3 separate regions of the Homo sapiens genome follow, and all the other regions are linked to region 2. The links come from fine-mapping of genetic effects on gene expression. A gene starts in region 2. Each other region holds a variant in brackets. All regions are shown on one strand. Distances are from middle to middle. Region 1 overlaps SLC35D2 (solute carrier family 35 member D2). Region 2 holds the start of SLC35D2 (solute carrier family 35 member D2). Region 3 overlaps ZNF510 (zinc finger protein 510).

The links.
Region 1: its variant is fine-mapped to the expression of SLC35D2 in whole blood (TOPMed, PIP above 0.99).
Region 3: its variant is fine-mapped to the expression of SLC35D2 in whole blood (TOPMed, PIP 0.97).

What each region holds. Positions count from the first base shown.
Region 1 is chr9:96,342,585-96,348,613 of GRCh38, reverse strand. It overlaps SLC35D2 (solute carrier family 35 member D2), which reads left to right. Exons shown (of 12, transcript NM_007001.3): 7 at 3,213-3,315; 8 at 4,618-4,710. SLC35D2-HSD17B3 (SLC35D2-HSD17B3 readthrough) reads left to right here. Exons shown (of 26, transcript NR_182427.1): 7 at 3,213-3,315; 8 at 4,618-4,710. Among named protein-coding and RNA genes, the nearest start is that of SLC35D2, 38 kb to the left of the region's middle. RefSeq lists enhancers at 5,088-5,611, 5,612-6,029. The variant C/A (reference allele first, on the strand shown) is at 3,210.
Region 2 is chr9:96,380,447-96,386,475 of GRCh38, reverse strand. SLC35D2 (solute carrier family 35 member D2) reads left to right here and starts at 2,765. Exons shown (of 12, transcript NM_007001.3): 1 at 2,765-2,999. The coding sequence starts at 2,842. ZNF367 (zinc finger protein 367) reads left to right here. Exons shown (of 5, transcript NM_153695.4): 5 at 1-535. It overlaps SLC35D2-HSD17B3 (SLC35D2-HSD17B3 readthrough), which reads left to right and starts at 2,765. Exons shown (of 26, transcript NR_182427.1): 1 at 2,765-2,999. RefSeq lists silencers at 2,777-3,106, 3,117-3,166.
Region 3 is chr9:96,764,320-96,770,348 of GRCh38, reverse strand. All of the region lies in intron 3 of ZNF510 (zinc finger protein 510), which reads left to right. Among named protein-coding and RNA genes, the nearest start is that of ZNF510, 11 kb to the left of the region's middle. The variant C/G (reference allele first, on the strand shown) is at 3,577.

The sequences.
Region 1 (6,029 bases), 38 kb after region 2:
TACAGACCAGCAGTGACCCTATCCTGCTCTCCTCTTACATTAGCACATCCAGATGCAAGCAGTGGCAGATCAGACTGTTGGATGAGCAGGTGATGCTGCTGTAACAAACAACCTCCACACGGCAGTAGCTTCACTCACCAGATGCACCCCATCCACGCCATCCACGCTGTCCAACACTAGGCAGTGCTAGTGCGAGGGCTCTGCTCCATGTGTTCACTCAGGGATCCAGGCTGATGGAATCCCTGCCTCAGAGGGCACTTCCTTTGCCAAACAAGCAGGAAAAGGGAAGGTGGGGAATTATGCACTGGCTCTTAAAGGTTTCACCCAGAAGTGACGTGTCACCTTCTCTTACATTTTATTCAAAAACAAGTTACATGGCCAGAAAAAGTTAAAATACATCTGGGCTGGGTGTGGTAGCCCATGCCTGTAATCCTGTTACAGGAAAGGGTCCTGATCCAGACCCCAAGAGAGGGTTCTTGGATCTTGTGGAAGAAAGAATTCAGGGCGAGTCTGCAGTGCAGCGTGAAAGCAAGTTTATTAAGAAAGTAAAGGAATAAAAGAATGGCCACTCCATAGAAAGAGCAGCCCCAGAGCTGCTGGTTGCCCATTTTTAATGGTTATTTCTTGATGATTTGCTAAACAAGGGGTGGATTATTCATGTCTCCCCTTTTAGACCATATAGGGTAGCTTCCTGACATTGCCCTGGCATTTGTAAACTGTCACGGCGCTGGCGGGAGTGTAGCAGTGAGGATGACCACAGGTCACTTTTGTGGCCATTTTAGTTTCAGTGGGTTTTGGCCTATCAGCAAGGTCTTTATGATTTGTATTTTGTGCCGGCTTCCTATGTCATCCTGTGACTTAGAATGCCTTAACCGCCTGGGAATGCAGCCCAGTAGGTTTCAGCTTCATTTTACCCAGCTCCTATTTAAGATGGAGTTGCTCGGGTTCACACGCCTCTGACAATCCCAGTACTTTGGGAGGCCCAGGTGACGGGATTGCTTGAGCCCAGGAGTTCGAGACCAGCCCTGGCAACATAATGAAACCCTGTCTCTACAAAAATAAAAGTAAAAAAATTAGCCGGGCATGGTGGCACATGCCTGTAGTCCCAGCTACTCAGGAGACTGAGATGGGAGGATCGCTTGAACAACTGCAAGGGTTACATGAATCTGCTCTAATTGATTAAACAAGTAAATTCTTCAGAAATGTCTGTGCTGTCACCACTGGCCTAAACAAACAGTGGGTAAGCTGCCTGACAGTGACCCAGGCTTCCGGGAGTGGGAACAGCGCTGCTGGGAACTCTTGGTCCCCTGAGTAGGAGTTCCCCTGCAGCTCTCCCAGGAGGTGGGCAGCATCTCCCCCCATCCCCTTTCCACTCACTTGGCTCTGCTGTCTCAGGGGGCGGCAGACTCTGCTCTTCTTCACGCTGAATCACATGTGGGTAGGTAAGAAATTTGGAAGACCCTTATTTTGAAGAAAATCCTTTTGAGACAGAGTTTCGCTCTTGTTGCTCAGGCTGGAGGCACGATCTTGGCTCACCACAACCTCTGCCTCCCTGGTTCAAGTGATTCTCCTGCCTCAGCCTCCCAAGTAGCTGGGATTACAGGCATGTGCCACCACGCCCAGCTAATTTTGTATTTTTAGTAGAGATGGGATTTCTCCATGTTGGTCAGGCTGGTTTCGAACTCCCGACCTCAGGTGATCCACCCACCTTGGCCTCCCAAAGTGCTGGGATTACAGGCAGGAGCCACCACGCCTGGCCAAAAATCCTTTTTTTTTTTTTTTTAAATTGTGACTGAGGGAGAATTCTGACTTATGATGACTAAAATTAATTTCCCTTCTCACAAATATATTTGTAGATAATAATGTGTGGAGGCGTCAAGCAAAAATCCAATTTAATTTGCATTCAGATTTTGGTAGAATTTTTGCTCTGTGTTTCATTCTCTTTGGTTAGAAATAATCTTATTTTGACATTGAAGAAGATTCAGGGTATGCCACTGCAAACTGTGCCACTGTGAGATCAGGATTATTTTGAGCCGAGAAAGATTGAGAATCAACAGATCAGGAAGTTTGCTGCCTTCTCCTTTCTGCCTAAAAACCAGGGAATCAATTTCCCATTGTGAAGAGGACCGCTTCTCCCATCCCAGGAAGAGGAGAGCAATTCCTATCACTGGACGGAGGGTCGGCCCTGAGATGCATCTGCATAAACAAACCCTAAAAGAACCCTTCTCGTTCATCATTTCCACCATAGGTTTCCTAGTTACTTTCTAACAATTACACAATTTATTTGTTCCTTGAAGCCCAAATCCTCTTTCCTTTTTAAAACGTAAGTCCCCAAGTCTAACTGTTTCTTTGAGTTTCACTTCTTTTCTGTGAACTTCAGGGAACATATTAATAAGATTCGTATTCTCTTTCTCCTGTTAATCTGTCTTTTATCAGTTAAATTAGCAGGCCCCCAGACACTGAATCTAAGAGGGTACAGGAAAAGGTTTTCCTCCCTGGCAATGTGTATTTCTGAATTATGACATGGCCTAGCACTGTCTGCAACGATCAAGTGCAGGTGGGTGGGCCACATCATGGCTCAGCTATTGCTCTTCCTCTTGTTCCTGTCATAGATCCCCAAACGTATTTATGCTGGTGCTATTTATAATGGAAATGGAAGAGAAGCTGTTTCAAAAGAATGGGAAGAAAGGAGCCATAGAGGGGTCACATAGAAGGATGGATACCTGCCTTGCCATTTTGATGGACGGGGTGCGGTTTGGGCACCAGATGGAGGTGTGGCTGCCTCATGCGACCCCTCTTACCCAGCCTCTGCCCAGCTGCCCCTCACTGGCTGCACCCTGGAGGTGGCCCTGTTCACTACAATAAGCAGAGCCCCTGGGTGGATCGGGGCGAATCACTCCCCTTAGGAAAGTCAGGGCTCACCAGTTATTATGTGGATTCATCAGCTAGCGAAAGAAAGGGGTTGCAGTTGAAGGAAGATGCTTAATGTCGCTCTGGTTTTAAGCCATTCACGATTGAGTCGAAGCCATCTGATGGGCTGGTTTGGTTTTTGTCTGGAGGCAAAGCAGAGGAATTAATCATTCACTACCACAAAGCGGGGAAAGTGTGCCACAGAAAAGTGGGTTTGATTAGGGAAAGGTAGATCAGGCGGGCTTGGAGGCCAAGTTGTGAGTTTTTGAGTAATCATTCTCCCTTTGTGGTCTCCCTCC[C/A]AGGTCTGACCTTGCTTTTAACTTAGAAGGCTATATTTTTGTATTCCTGAATGATATCTTCACAGCAGCAAATGGAGTTTATACCAAACAGAAAATGGACCCAAAGGTACCAGACCTTGCCTATGGCTTTTTGGCTCTGTCATCTGGCCCCTAGAATTATATGAAAAATGAAAATGAATGTGTACAGTTGGAATGTAATTTAATTTATATAATATGACCTGTAAATTCCTTATTTTCAATTATCTTGTCTGTATAAGTTATTATTTGCGAAATTTTGGGTGAAAATGAGATATGATGGGAAAAGCCACTAGTTTAGATGCACACTCAGAACATATAAAAAGGGATTATTCTGAAAGGCAAATTAATTTTTTTACCAGCATCATCAATCACCAAGGCAAGGTCAGGGGTCACGATATTTGTTCAGAGAGCGCTAGTTTGGAGTCTGGAGATGTGGGCTACAGACACAAGTTTTTCTACTTACTGACTGTTGTGACTTTGAACCTTAACTTCTCCAAACTTCAGTTTCCTTATCTGTGGAATGAAATGACTGCAATGGATAATTTGTAAGGTCTTGTCCAGCAATAGCTGCTGCTTCTGATGATGAGGGGTGGGGCAGAGGAGCTTTGCTTTTGTGTGGCTGCCTGTCACGTGGAGGCCCCATCCCTCCCCCTCCCCCATCCCTCCCCCACCCCCAGCTGTTACAAGGAAGCCCGGAGGATGAGTCAGGCATATGTTTCTTTGTTCCAAGCTCTTTGTGCTGGATGAGGGAGTTCACTCTGACCAACAGGCTTATTTCCATGAGCTATTTTTTTTAATCTGCTCTTTTTTTTTTTTTTTTATCTGCTCTGTTTTTTTTTTTTTTCCCCTGCATGGCCTTTTTTTTTTTTTTTTTTTTAACGGTAGAAGTTTTGCAAAAACAGGTTTGTTGTCTTTTGAGGATCACAATATGTCATCCTTTTTTGAAAATGGTGAAGTGGTGTGGCCACTTTAATGAAAGTAAATATATGATGCTGCTGTCCTTTAATGGAAAGAGCAGATGTTTTTAAAGAGTTTTGTTTATATTAACATTTTTAATGTTCTTTATTTTGTTCCAGATTTCCCATTTTGAATTACATGCTTTAAAAAAAACCCCACATAATTAGAATGCTGGAGATGAATGGAACCCTAGAGGCTTCCCACTGCCATGCGTTTTCTCTGTAGTTTTGGTGTAAAACAAATGTTTATTCCAAAATCTCAGTACCCTCAAACCAAAGCATTTTATGTCAGAAATTTGCTGAAAATATTCCAAAAGAGTTGCTCAGAATGCACATTCTAACTTCGCATGAATATGCAGTTGTATAAATGGCTCCAGGAAATCTGTGCCTCACGTTTCTGAAACTGAGTGGTTTTTACATTTTTGTTTTTGCAGGAGCTAGGGAAATACGGAGTACTTTTCTACAATGCCTGCTTCATGATTATCCCAACTCTTATTATTAGTGTCTCCACTGGAGACCTGCAACAGGTGAGCTGATGACAATCATTACAGTTTTCCTTAGCTGGCTTTAAAAAATTTAATATTTAACATTTGATATGCACTGAAACAAAAAGTGTAAAGTTAGCTAGGACTACCAGGAGGGTACATGATAACAAGATGTTTGATATCCCTAGTAACACCTTTTGGCACTACCCTTGCATTGGCATTTATCCTTAGCCACATATCAAGGAGAGCCAAGAACTCTGGACTTGGTACTTTTTGGAAAACAACAATACAAATCTGAGTTTGAATTCCATATCCCCCTTTGCTAATGTGGGGACCCTGGGAGAGCTACTTACCCTAGAAGGGGATTTTGATCATTTTAAAACATAGGTTTGTTTATTTATTTGTTACTTTCTATTACGGACATTTTGAAACATGCACAAAATAGAGTAATTCAATGAGTTGTCAGGGACCCACCACCTAGCTTCAACACTTTGGCATTTTGCCATCTTATTTTATCTGTCCTCATCCATCCCCAGCTTTTTGTTCCTCTGGAGTATTTTAAAACCTATCCCAGCCATCACGCCATTTTACCTCTAAATATTCCAGGATCCACATTTGAATTTTGGGAAGGTGTTGTTCTTTCAGCATTTGCCCTGAAACCGTATCTGCTGCTGGTGAGAGACAAATAAAATGGTAAATTAGTGGTAAGATCTGAGGCCCAGTGGAGCGGTGGAGGCCAAGTCTCTCAGGACGTGTGGACATTCTCCATAGTGACAGCTCCAGTGGCCACCCCGAAGGGTGCAAGCCCGGACTTCTTCAGGAAGTCGCGGGCCACACAGCCTCTGAGAACTTTGCTGATGTGTAAGTGACTGTGAGAAACGAGATGCGATGGGCAAAACCCTCCTCAGCGGGACCTCCACCCACAGACTCGACTCCGGACACAGCCCTGACCAGCCAGGCGATAACCCCGTCATTGCTGGCCTGGGGCTGGGGCAGCACCCATTTACCCATGGACAGGACAGTGTTTCCATATTTAGCAATCAGCATGGGTGTATGTTGCCCACCAGTTGAAAGTCAATCCCATTTGCAGCTCTTTTAGGGTCTGAGTGACTCTGAAAGGCTGCAGGCTGCTGTGGACTCCTGGGCAGCTCCTTGTTCTTTCTCCAGCTGGACTTTCTCACTTGTCCAATTCTCTTCCCAGAAGGAGGGATCAGCAGAAGGGCTTAGCAACCTCGTCCCCGGGCACAAACAGCCATTTCCACGGGTTTATATGGAAAACTACCAAGTGGCACCAATCTCGATAAAGAGCTCTCTTTTTCGGGTTATTTAGAACGTTGTGAACCTGAGCCTCCCTGTTAATT
Region 2 (6,029 bases):
ATGTTTCAGCATTTCCTCTAGAATTTTTGCTCTCAAATATGTGATTTAATGAACTAAAAACAACACTCATCAGTCTTGGGAAATTTGAACTTTGATCAACTTAACTAAAGAAGGAAGGGTAGTAAGAATTTTTCAAATACAAATATTTGCCAATTCACAGATGATAACATTTAAGGCCTTCAAAAGTAAGGGTTTTTCCTTGTTTCTCCAGTCAGCTTTTGTCAACTCTAATAGTTTTTTCATAAACATTTTTTATTTGTATAATTGCAACAGTTTAAGAAATTATCACAACTATTTAGAAACATTTAAAATGTTCTTTTTGATATAAGCTATATACTTGGAAAAATACATTGGTATCTAAAATTTGAGGTGTGTTAAGACTGCTTTTTGTTTTAAAAAATGGTTTACATTCAAATTTTTGAAGTGTTTTATGCTTCATATGGCTAAGTTGTAGTTTGGCAGAGTTAACAGCATAAGAATAAACATGCTGTAATTTTAAAAGATGCTTTGAATAAAAATTTATTTTAATTTAAAATTTAAAGTACACGGTCATTCTTAAAGCCTTTATCATTTGTTTTCCTATCGAAAATATAATAACCATGATATAAAAAAATTTAAAAGATAGAAACATCACCTACAGCCTTATGTTCAGCCATCAGTATTATTTCAGTACATGTTTGCGTAGTTGTAAGTACAGTGTGGATTGCTTTTTCTTACTTTAATTATGGCTTTTAAGGTTATAGATATTTAACTTCCTCATCGGGTTCATTACTACAGTGTTAAAAATATACTGCTGTGGATAAGTATTGAACTATTGCCACCCCATTTCCAGGCCTTAAATTAGGGTAATAAGGAAAAGGGATTTCATTTCACTTACATTTAGGATGGGTTGTCTCTGGGGTCAGCTCCTCAAGAATCCATTTAAAGCCTGTGTACTTTTCTAAGAGTCTAGCAAATTGGTTTTCTTTTTTCATCAGTTATTTTTGGTAGATCTTTAGTTGTGTATTTGCAGTGGCAAGGGTCAGCCTGTCCTACCCTTGTGCAGAAGAATATCACAAGCAACTCCTTAGTGTGAGTTGCTGTTTAAACAGGGTAAGGATGGGATTTTGACAGCGAGGTAAGGTCCTGGAAGTATGTGTATACAATCAAACTAAATGCAATTATGATGAAGGTCATCATTAAAAATAACTTTAAAATATTCTTTTTGCAGTCAAAACATTTGGAGACTCACAAGAAAATTGAATGTTCTGAGGAAATTAACCAAAATGACCGATTTCCTGTTTAACTTGAATATGGATTCATTTTCTCTTTTAAAACGGACTTAACATGTCTTTTCTTTCTTGTTTTGGGTAACTTGGGCACTTCTGGTCTTTTTAATGCTAGCTAATTTTCACGAGTTCTGCTTTAGTTCTTATCAGGGCTGAAAATGTTTCCCAGTTTTCATTCTCCTGGTTGTTTAGTGCCTAAGGGTAGAAAAACAATTCTCTGGGCATCTATATAGTTAGGCCCCAACTTTTATTTAACTTGAAATCTTAAGCTTTTCTAAGAAGCTAAAAGTTCATATATATATATATATATAATATACATTATATATTAAATATATAATATATATATTTTTGAGACGGAGGCTTGCTCTGTCGCCCAGGCTGGAGTGCAGTGGCGCGATCTCGCCTCACTGCAAGCTCTGCCTCCCGGGTTCACGCCATTCTCCTGCCTCAGCCTCCTGAGTAGCTGGGACTACAGGCGCCCGCCACCACGCCCGGCTAATTTTTTTTGTATCTTTAGTAGAGACGGGGTTTCACCGTGTTAGCCAGGATGGTCTCGATCTCCTGACCTCGTGATCTGCCCGCCTCGGTCTCCCAAAGTGCTGGGATTACATGTGTGAGCCACCGCGCCTGGCCAAAAGTTCATATTTTTTAAAGACTGACAAGGGTAGGCGGTTCTGGGAAGCTGTCCTTCAACTGACCTGACCCGAAGGCAAACGGCCCTCCGCGAGGAATGCACCTACCACAAAGCACCCAGAGGACACCCAAGTCCCAAGGCTTCACCCACCTTACTCCTAGCCACTCCACTCCTAGATATTTATTTAAGAGAAATGAAGACACAGGTCCCACAAACGCCCACGAATTTTCATGGAAGCATTTTTCCTAATGGTCCTAAACTGGAAACAACCAATGGATACACAATTTGTGATACTATTCAACGATTAAACAAACCACATGGTCGAGTCCAAAGCATAGAGTGAAAACCCCTGAGACCACATGCTCATTCATAAATTCTAGAAAGCACCCTGTTTATTTGAAATTCCGGAAAAGGCAAACCTAACCTACAGCAATAGTCATCGATGAGATGCGGGCGTTAACTTCAAAGGGGCAGCAAGGGGAATTTTTGGGGCGATGGAAATGTTGTTTTGAGTAGTTACTCCTGTGGATGCCTTTGTCGAAGCTCATCTCAAACTATGGACTGGCAAGATGTGTACACTTCATTGTATGTAAATTATACACTAAACAAAAAAGTTGTAGGGAAAAAAAAAAAAAAGCAAAACAAGCCCTGAGACTTACTGAAGCGTTTCTTTCCAGGAAAGCCTGGAGGAAGGCAGCGCTTTTCAACTCCCCAGCGCATTGCCGGCCCTGGAGACCGAAGGAGGTGCCTGGAACCAGGGTGAAGTCCAGCGCGCAGGGTCCTCCCGCGCCGGCCTCGGGCGCTCGCAGGGGGCGGGTCGGGACCTGGGATTGCGCCGGGCTCTTCCTGTTCCTGCCGCGCCCTCTTCCCCGGCCCGGCCGGGCGGGACCAGTGCGCAGCCGGGGCTGGCGGGCGGCGGGGTCCGCGGGGCCGCAGGAGATGACGGCCGGCGGCCAGGCCGAGGCCGAGGGCGCTGGCGGGGAGCCCGGCGCGGCGCGGCTGCCCTCGCGGGTGGCCCGGCTGCTGTCGGCGCTCTTCTACGGGACCTGCTCCTTCCTCATCGTGCTTGTCAACAAGGCGCTGCTGACCACCTACGGGTGAGGCGGGGCCCGGGGCCGGGGGGTCTGCGGGAGTGCGGGGCTGCCCCTGTCCTCCGTGCGCTTCAGCGGCGCCCGGGACAGGGCGGGTGGGGACAGGGACCCTCGAGTCTCAGCTGGGCACATTGGTCGAGTTTCCCAGGCGCCCTCCAGAACTCGCTCAGCTTTCTACACTCAGGCCACAACCTGAGAAAGTCGTTCTCTTCCTGAGCGCGCCTGCCCTGCTGCGAGGCGCCCTGTCCTAGGTGGGCTGGTAGAGCTCAGACAGATTCTTTCATACACCCAGCGAGCTGAAAACAGGGATTCAAATGCCTGCTTCAAAGGACGCAATTCCTTACACAGATCTCCATGTTCAACGGTCAGGTACTCCTGAGCCAGTAAGTCTGTATTGATTGACTGTTCATTCTCAGATGACCAGCGTGTTCATGGAAAACTCGGGAAAACAATTGGAAGTTCATATGGAGTACTTTTTTGGATTAGTGTGAAGTAAACGCAAATTTGTGCTGCCTTGAACCTATTTGTAAGGACTAGAAAATCCTGCTTAATTCTGCTACCATTGTAGCGGCACTGAGAAAATTGTGGATTTAGACCCAGCTCCACCGGTTAACACCTGTCTTTTTGGACCAGTCTCACAGTCAGCAATTTTTTTCAGATGCAAAAAACCTGAATGATTACAATCGTGTTAATTACCCTCCAGGGCTCTGCACGAGCTGTTATATGTGAAGGCTCTTTGTAAACTCTACTATGTTACAAGAATATGCCATCAACATTTTAGAGCCCAAAGAGACCTAGAGTGTCTTAGTTAGAGAGTATCTTAGAGTATCAGCTTTCTTTTTTTATATATACATACAGATTCAGCTTATGTGGGTCTCACTTTTCTCGAATATAAAATACGAAAGCTGAGGCTGGCTGAGGTGGTTTGCACCTGTAATCACAGCATTTGGGAGGCCAAGGCAGGCATATATATATATATATATATAGTGTGTGTGTGTGTGTGTGTGTGTGTGTGTATAATATTTTTTTGAGACAAGGTTTCACTCTGTTGCCTAGGCTGGAGTGTAGTGACACAATCATGACTCACTGCAGCCTCGACCATCTGGGTTCAAGCAATCCTTCTGCTGCAGCCTCCAGAGAAGCTGGGACCATAGGTGTGCACCACTGCACCGGCAATTTTTTTGATTTTTTGTAGAGGTGGGGTCTCAGTGTGTTTCCAAGGCTGGTCTAGGCCTGCTTTGGCCTCCCAAAGTGCTGTGATTACAGGTGCAAACTATCTCATCCAGCCTCACCTTTCTTATTTTATATTCGAGAAAACTGAGGCCCACATAAGCTCGATTGGTTGTACCTCCAACAGATATTTATTAAGCACCTACTAAATACTGAGCCCATTGCAAGCACCAGGGAAGCCTCTGTGAACAGCACAAGGTCCCTGCTCTGGAGATTCTGCTTCAGTGGTGGAGACAGAAAATAAACAGGTAGGTTCATGAATAAACGAGACACTTTCAGATCTGATGTGAGAGTGCCTGGGCTGGAGTAGCTGTCACAGAGCATTCCAGGTAGAAGTGAGCAGCAAGTGTACAATGTGCTGAAGTGGGCATGAGCTTGGCTGCTGGAGGAACAGAGAGAAGATCACTGTGCCTGGGCGGGGAGGTAGGCAGGGAAGGCAGGAGTCAGCTCTTTCTCTCATTTTTGATAGCTTTCACTAAGCACTTGTGATGTACCAGCACTGTTCGAGGAGAACAGTGTTTTCCCACCGTTCTTGGGAAAGAGAAGTGAAAAGAGCAGATCAGAATCCTTAACTTCACGGAGCTGCATCCTTGTGGACCAATAAATGAGCCAGTAACATTTACATTATGTCAGATGTGACCAAGGTGCTGGGGAAAAAATAAAACAGGAAAGGGAGTGAGGGAGAGAGGGAGGGGAGAGTATGCAGTGTGAGCGTGATCAGTGGAGCCTCAGAAGGAGGTGGCATTGGAGCCAAGACCAGAGTGAGGTGGGGACATAAGCCACACTGGGGGACGGGGGAAGAGCATTCCAGGCCTGGAGGAGTGAAGAGTTTGAATGGGAATGGTAGCAGATGGGGTCTGAGAGTAATGGATTGCTGGCCTGTGTGGGGCCTTGGGAGGCCACCGCCAGGGCTCTGGCATCAGCTCTGAATGAGATGGGAGCCACGCAAGGTGTCAGGCAGGGGAATTACATGATCTAAATCACTGTGGCTGCTGTGTTGAGAGCCGACATCTGGGGACCAGGGTGGAAGGATGAGACTGGATAAATAGTTGTAGTTTCATGCTAAATGCAATTAGAAGTCCCTTGGAAGGTTTTGACATGGGAGTGACCTGACACAATTTGTGTGATTAAAAAGATCTCTCTGGCTGGCAGGCGGGTGGAGAACTGACAGTACTGGCATCAGGGAGAGGGGCTGGAAGCCACTGCAGGGCTGCAGGTAAAGACGGCGTGGACTGGGCAGGGCATAGCAGCGGAGGTAAAAGGAAGGGATGGATTTGGGATATTTTTTGGTGATCCTGTGGCCGTCAGTATTCTTGGCAAGGTCTCTCCAGTGTGTTGCAGCCTGCTGCCTGGTGTCCATGGAAAACACAGCCCTGCCTCAAGGAAATGAACATGGACATACTGTACCTAAACCTGGAGCATTTGACATGGAAGCTAATGAAGGAAAAAGAAAACTTAAACACTTAGGATAAAAAAAAAAGGCCGGGCGCGGTGGCTCACACCTGTAATCCCAGCACTTCGGGAGCCTGAGGTGGGCAGATCATGAGGTCAGGATTTCGAGACCAGCCTGGCCAGCATGGTGAAACCCTGTCTCTACTAAAAATACAAAAAAAACAAACAAAAAAAAACTAGCTGGGCATGGTGGTGCACGCCTATAATCCCAGCTACTTGGGAGGCTGAGTCAGGAGAATCACTTGAACTCAGGAGGCAGTGGTTGCAGTGAGCTGAGATCACACCACTGCACTCCAGCCTGGGCGATAGAGTGAGACTCAGTCTCAAAAAAAAAAAAGAAAAAATACCAGAAAA
Region 3 (6,029 bases), 380 kb before region 2:
CAAAGTTCTGCGATTACAGGTGTGAGCCGCCACACCTGGCCCTTTGTGACTATCCTTTTTACTTAGCATACTGTTTTCAAGGTTCATCCATGTTGTACGTATCAGTACATCATTCCTTTTTGTGACTGAATAATATTCCATTGTGTGGATATACCACATTGTTTATTCATTCAACTGATGAGCATTTGGATTGTTTCTCCCTTTTGACTGTTATGACTAGTGCTGCTATTAACATTCATGTACAAGTTTTTGTTTGGACACCTGTTTTCTCTTGGGACTAATCCTAGAAAAGGAACTTCTGACTCATATGGTAACTCTTGACTTATCTTTTTTGGTAACTGCCAAACTGTTTTCCACAGTGGCTGCACCATTTTACATTCCCACCAGCAGTGTATTAGGGTTCCACTTTCTCCACATCATTAAAACCACTTGTTATTTTCCCTTTTTTTAAAATTATGGACATCCTAGTGGGTGTGAAGTGGTATCATTTAACTTTGATTTGCATTTCCTTGATTAATGACATTCAACATCTTTTCATGCGCTTATTGGCTATTTGTTTATCATCTTTGGAGAAATGTCTATCCAAGTCCTTTGCCCATTTTGGATTACATTTTTTGTTGTTCAGTTATAAGAGTTCTTTATGTATTCTGGCTACTAGACATTTATTAAATGTAGTATTTGTGAATATTTTCTCCTATTCTGTAGGTTCTTTTCACTATCTTGATGGTATCCTTTGCACAAAAGTTTAATTGTGATGAAGTCCAATTTTTTTTTCTTTGGTATCATATCCAGGAAGTCATTGCCAAATCCAAGGTCATAAAGGTTTACTCCTGATTTCATCTAAGAGTCATGCAGTTAAACTCTTATATTTAGGTCTTTGATCCCTTTTAAGGCCAATTTTTTTTTTTTTTGGAGACGGAATCTTTGTCTGTTGCCCAGGCTGGAATCCAGTGGCACGATCTTGGCTCACTGCAACGTCCTTCTCCTGGGTTCAAGTGATTCTCCCACCTCAGCCTTCCGAGTAGCTGGAATTACAGGCATGCACCACAATGCCCGGGTAATTTTTATATTTTTTCAGTAGAGACGGAGTTTCACCATGTTGACCAGGCTGGTCATGAACTCCTGATCTCAAGTGATCTGTCTGCCTCAGCCTCCTAAAGTGCTGGGATTACAGGTGTGAGGCACCACACCTGGCTGTTTTGAGGCAATTTTAAAATACAGTATAAGGTAGGAGTCCAGCTTCATTATTTTGATGAGATTCAGTTATCCCAGCATCATCTGTTGAAAACTATTTTTTTCCTAATAAATGGCCAATGTATGGGTTTATTTCTGGGCTCTCAGTGCTATTCTGTGGATCTGTATGTCTGTATTTATGCCAGTACCACACTCTCTTGATTACTGTTGCTTTATAATAAGTTTTTAAATCAGGAAATGTAATCCCTCCAATTTTTTTTCTTTTTTTTCTAGATTGTTTTGACTATTCAGGGTCCCTTGCAATTTCATATAAATTGTAGGTTCAACATTTCTGCAGAAAGGTCATTAGGATTTTGATATAGATTTCACTGAATCTGTATATCACTTTTGGGAGTATTGTCATCTTAACAATTTTAAATCTTCCAATTCATGAACACAAGGTGTCTTTCCATTTATTTGGGTCCTCTGATTTCTTCTAGCAGTGTTTTCTAGTGTTCACGTATAAGTCATGTACCTTCTTGGTTAAATTTATTCCTATTTTATTATTTTTTGTTCTATTGTAAGTGGAATTGTTTTCTTTTTTATTATTCATTGCTAGTATTTAGAGAGATAAATGATTCTTGTGTGTTCATCTTGTATCCTACAATTTTGATGAATTCATTTATTGGCTCTAATAGTTTTTTGTGGCTTCCTTAGTCTTTTCCATGTATTAAATCTCATGGTCTCTGAGAATAGAGATAGTTTTACTTTTTTCTTTCCAATTTGGATGCATTTTTGTCTTACCTATTTCCTCTAGCTAGAACTTCCAGTATAATGAATAGAAATGATGAAAGCAGGCATCCCTGTCTTATTCCTGATATTTGGAAGAAACCTTCTTGTTTTTTAGCCTAGCGTATTCTGTTAGCTGTGGTTTTTCAGAAATGCTTTTTATTGTGTTGCAGCAGTTCTATTCTAGTCCTACCATGTTAAATGTTTGTTTTTATCATGAAAGGATATTTTTGTCAAATGCTTTTTCTGCATCAGTTGAGATGATCGTGTGACTTGTTTTCTTCATTTTATTATTGTGATATATTACACTGATTTATTTTCTTATGGTGAGCCACCTTGCATTCCTGGAAATAAATTGTACTTGGTCATGGTATATAGTACTTTTTATTTGTTGCAAGATTTGGTTTGCGAGTATTTTGTTGAAAACTTCTGCACACATATTCAGAAGGGATACATATCATAGTTTTTGGGTGATTTTTTTATCTGGCTTTGGTTCAAGGTAACTCATAGAATGAGTTAGGAAATGTTCACTCATCTTCTATTTTTGGAAGAATTAGAGAAGGATTGGTGTTAGTTTTTCTTTAAATGTTTGGTAGAATTCACCAAACATTTAAAGACAGACTGACAGTTGGTCTTGAGCCTTTCTTTGTTGGGAGGATTTGGATTACTGATTCAGTCTTATATCAGTCTGTTCGGATGTTCTGTTTCTTTTTGAGTCCATTTTGGTGGTTTGTGTGTTTCTAGGAATTTGTCCACTTCATCTTGGTTATGTAATTTGTTGCTATACAGTTCACTGTATTCTTTATTATAGTCTTTTTTATTTTGTAAGGTTAGTAGTAAGGTCCCCACCTCATTTAGTTCCTTAAAGTATACAATTAGGATACTGATTTGGGATCATTTTTAATATAGGTGTTACAGCTATAAATTTCACACTTAGCACTGCCTTAGCTGCATCTCATGCATTTTGGTATTTTGTGTATTCATTGTGAGTAATCTCAATGTATTTTCTAATTTCTGGGTCTCAGGGGTTTGTTTTGTTTTGTTTTGTTTTGTTTTTTTGAGACAGAGTCTCGCTCTATCACCCAGGCTGGAGTGTAGTGGCACGATATCAGCTCACTGCAACCTCCACCTCCCGGGTTCAAGCAATTCTCCTGCCTCAGACACCCGAGTAGCTGGGATTATGGGCACGCACCACCACACCTGGCTAATTTTTCTATTTTTAGTAGAGACAGGGTTTCACCATGTTGGCTAGGCTGGTCTCGAACTCCTGACCTCAAGTGATTCGCCTGCCTCAGCCTCCCAAAGTGCTGGAATTATAGGCGTGAACCACCATGCCCAGCCTCATTTCTCTTTTGATTTTCCCTTTGATCCTGTAGCGAGGTGAAAATCCACCTATGTGTATGGCCCCCAGGGACTTCACACACTCAAACTAGTACACATTTGCCTTTAGCAGGTTAAATTTTTCTAGTTTTATCTTCCTAATTGTATTAGATGGAGTTGAGTAGCATCTGCTCCAGTAAGCAAATGAGCACATCCTGATTCTCCCTGCAGGTGCCTGTCTCGTCTCTCTCTCTCCTAATAGTTTGAAAAAAAGATACTAATTTTCTGTTTTCC[C/G]AGCTATGTTCTTGTAAGGATGTTAGCGTTGCTTTTATCAGCTCTCTACATCTCTAAGCTAAGATCTAAAGCTACGCTGTATGATTGTAATTTTTTGTAATTTAGTGAGATAGACTGTCCTTTTTTTTTAATGTGCAAAGGAAACCAGAGAGTTATGTTATGCAGAGGTTATCCTATATATGTCAGTCAGGTTGGTTAATTATGTCTTTTCAATCTTCTATATCAGTGGTCAGAAAACTTTCTGTAAATGTCAGATAGTAGCCTTTGTGAGAGATACAGTCTCTGTTGCATCTACCAAACTCTGCAGCTGTAGTGTTAAGCAGCCATAGATAATACATAAACAAATGAATGTGGCTGTGTTCCAAGAAAACTTTATTTACAAAAAAAAAAAATTGGTAGTGGTGGTATTTTTCATTTACAAAAAAAAAAAAATAGTAGTGGTGAGCTGGATTTGACCTTTGTGCTGTAGTTCACTGACTCCTGTTCTATATCCCTGTTGGTTTTTCTTAATCTGCTTTTCTATGAGTTACTGGGAGAGTTACATTAAAATCACTAATTAAAATTGTAGATTGATATCTCATTTCTATCAACTTTTGTTTATATACAGTCAGTTCTCATAATTCTCAGTAGTAATGTTCCAAAAAGTCACTACAAACACTGAACTAATAAATACTGAACCATTACTCAGAGGAGAAATATGGGGTTAAGCCTCTAGTCACATTTTTGTCAGCCAGTCAGTACATAATCTTTTTGTGTGTCTTTCTGCATAAAGACACCTTATTTAATATTGTTGGTTTATAATGATTGAACTAATGGCCAACAACACCATAACTAATGCCTGAATGAATCTTATCTAACATAGATATTTTCTCCATGAGCCATACCACAGGCTTCTTGCACATAGGCACACTAGACAGCACATAACTGTTATACATATAGGCCATTTAAAAAGTGAAATCATCGGCCAGGCGCAGTGGCTCACGTCTGTAATCCCAGCACTTTGGGAGGCCGAGGTGGGTGGATCACGAGGTCAGGAGATGGAGACCATCATGGCCAACATGGTGAAACCCCATCTCTACTAAAAATACAAAAATTAGCTGGGCGTGGTGGCACGTGCCTGTAGTCCCAACTACTCAGGAGGCTGAGGCAGGATAATTGCTTGAACCTGGGAGGCGGGGGTTGCAGTGAGCCGAGATCACATCACTGCACTCCAGCCTGGCAACAGAGCAAGACTCTGTCTCAAAAAAAAAAAAGAAAAAGTGAAATCATCAAGAAAAAGCACAAAAATGCAGTAAATATGGCACTAAATAGACTGAGAAGTGGACACTTATTTACAGTATCAGAGCTGAAACAAGAAAGCAGATCACCTTGTTGAGCCTCATCTGGGAACATGTAGGTCAGGCAATTCAAATTTTTTACCTTCCTGTACATGTCCACAAATGACTGCAAAATAACTGCAAGTGTTGATTTTGAGGTTGCAAATAATTTTAGTGTGTGAATTTACAAATACGTAATCCGTGAATAATAAGAAATGCTAATTGGACGCTATGTTTGCCAGGTGCATAGCAATTTTGATTTGTTGTATCTTCTATTGAAAGGACTGTTTTGTCATTACAAATCGTTACTCAGTTTTTTGTTGTTGTTGTTGTTGTTGTTTTTTATACAAGAATCTCACTCTGTCACCCAGGCTGGAGTGCAGTGGCGCGATCTCAGCTCACTGCAACCTCCGCCTCCCAGGTCCAAACGATTCTCCTGCCTCAGCCTCCTGAGTAGCTAGGATTACAGGCACTCACCACCACACCCGGCTAATTTTTGTATTTTTAATAGAGATGGGGTTTCACCACGTTGGTCAGGCTGGTCTCAAACTCCTGACCTCGTGATCCGCCTGCCTCGGCCTCCCAAAGTGCTAGGATTACAGGCATGAGCCACCGCACCCGGCCCGTTACTCATTTTTTATACCTCTTTCTTACCTTAAAGTCTACTGTATATGATAGTAATGCAGTCATATCAACTATCTTTTGGTTTTGATTATATGGTATATCTTTTTCCATCCTTTTACTTTCAATCTCCATAATCCCTATATATATAATGTTTCCTTTGTTGTTGTATTATACTTTATCTTTTCTTTAATACTATTATTTAGTCCAGAGAATGGTACATTTTTTTCTATAAAGGCAAGTAATAAATATTTTCAGTTTTGACAATCATAAGGTCTCTGATGGAACTTCTCAGTGCTATTTCAGCACAAAAACAGCCATAAACAATGCAACATGATTGGGTGTGCCTGTGTGCCAACTGACTTTATTTAAAAAGCGGTAAGTGGCCAGGTACAGTGACTCACACTTATAATCCCAGAGCTTTTGGAGGCCAAGGTGGGAGGATCACTTGAGGCCAGGAGTTCAAGATTAGCCTAGGCAACATAGCAAGACACTGTCTTTACCACACATACACAA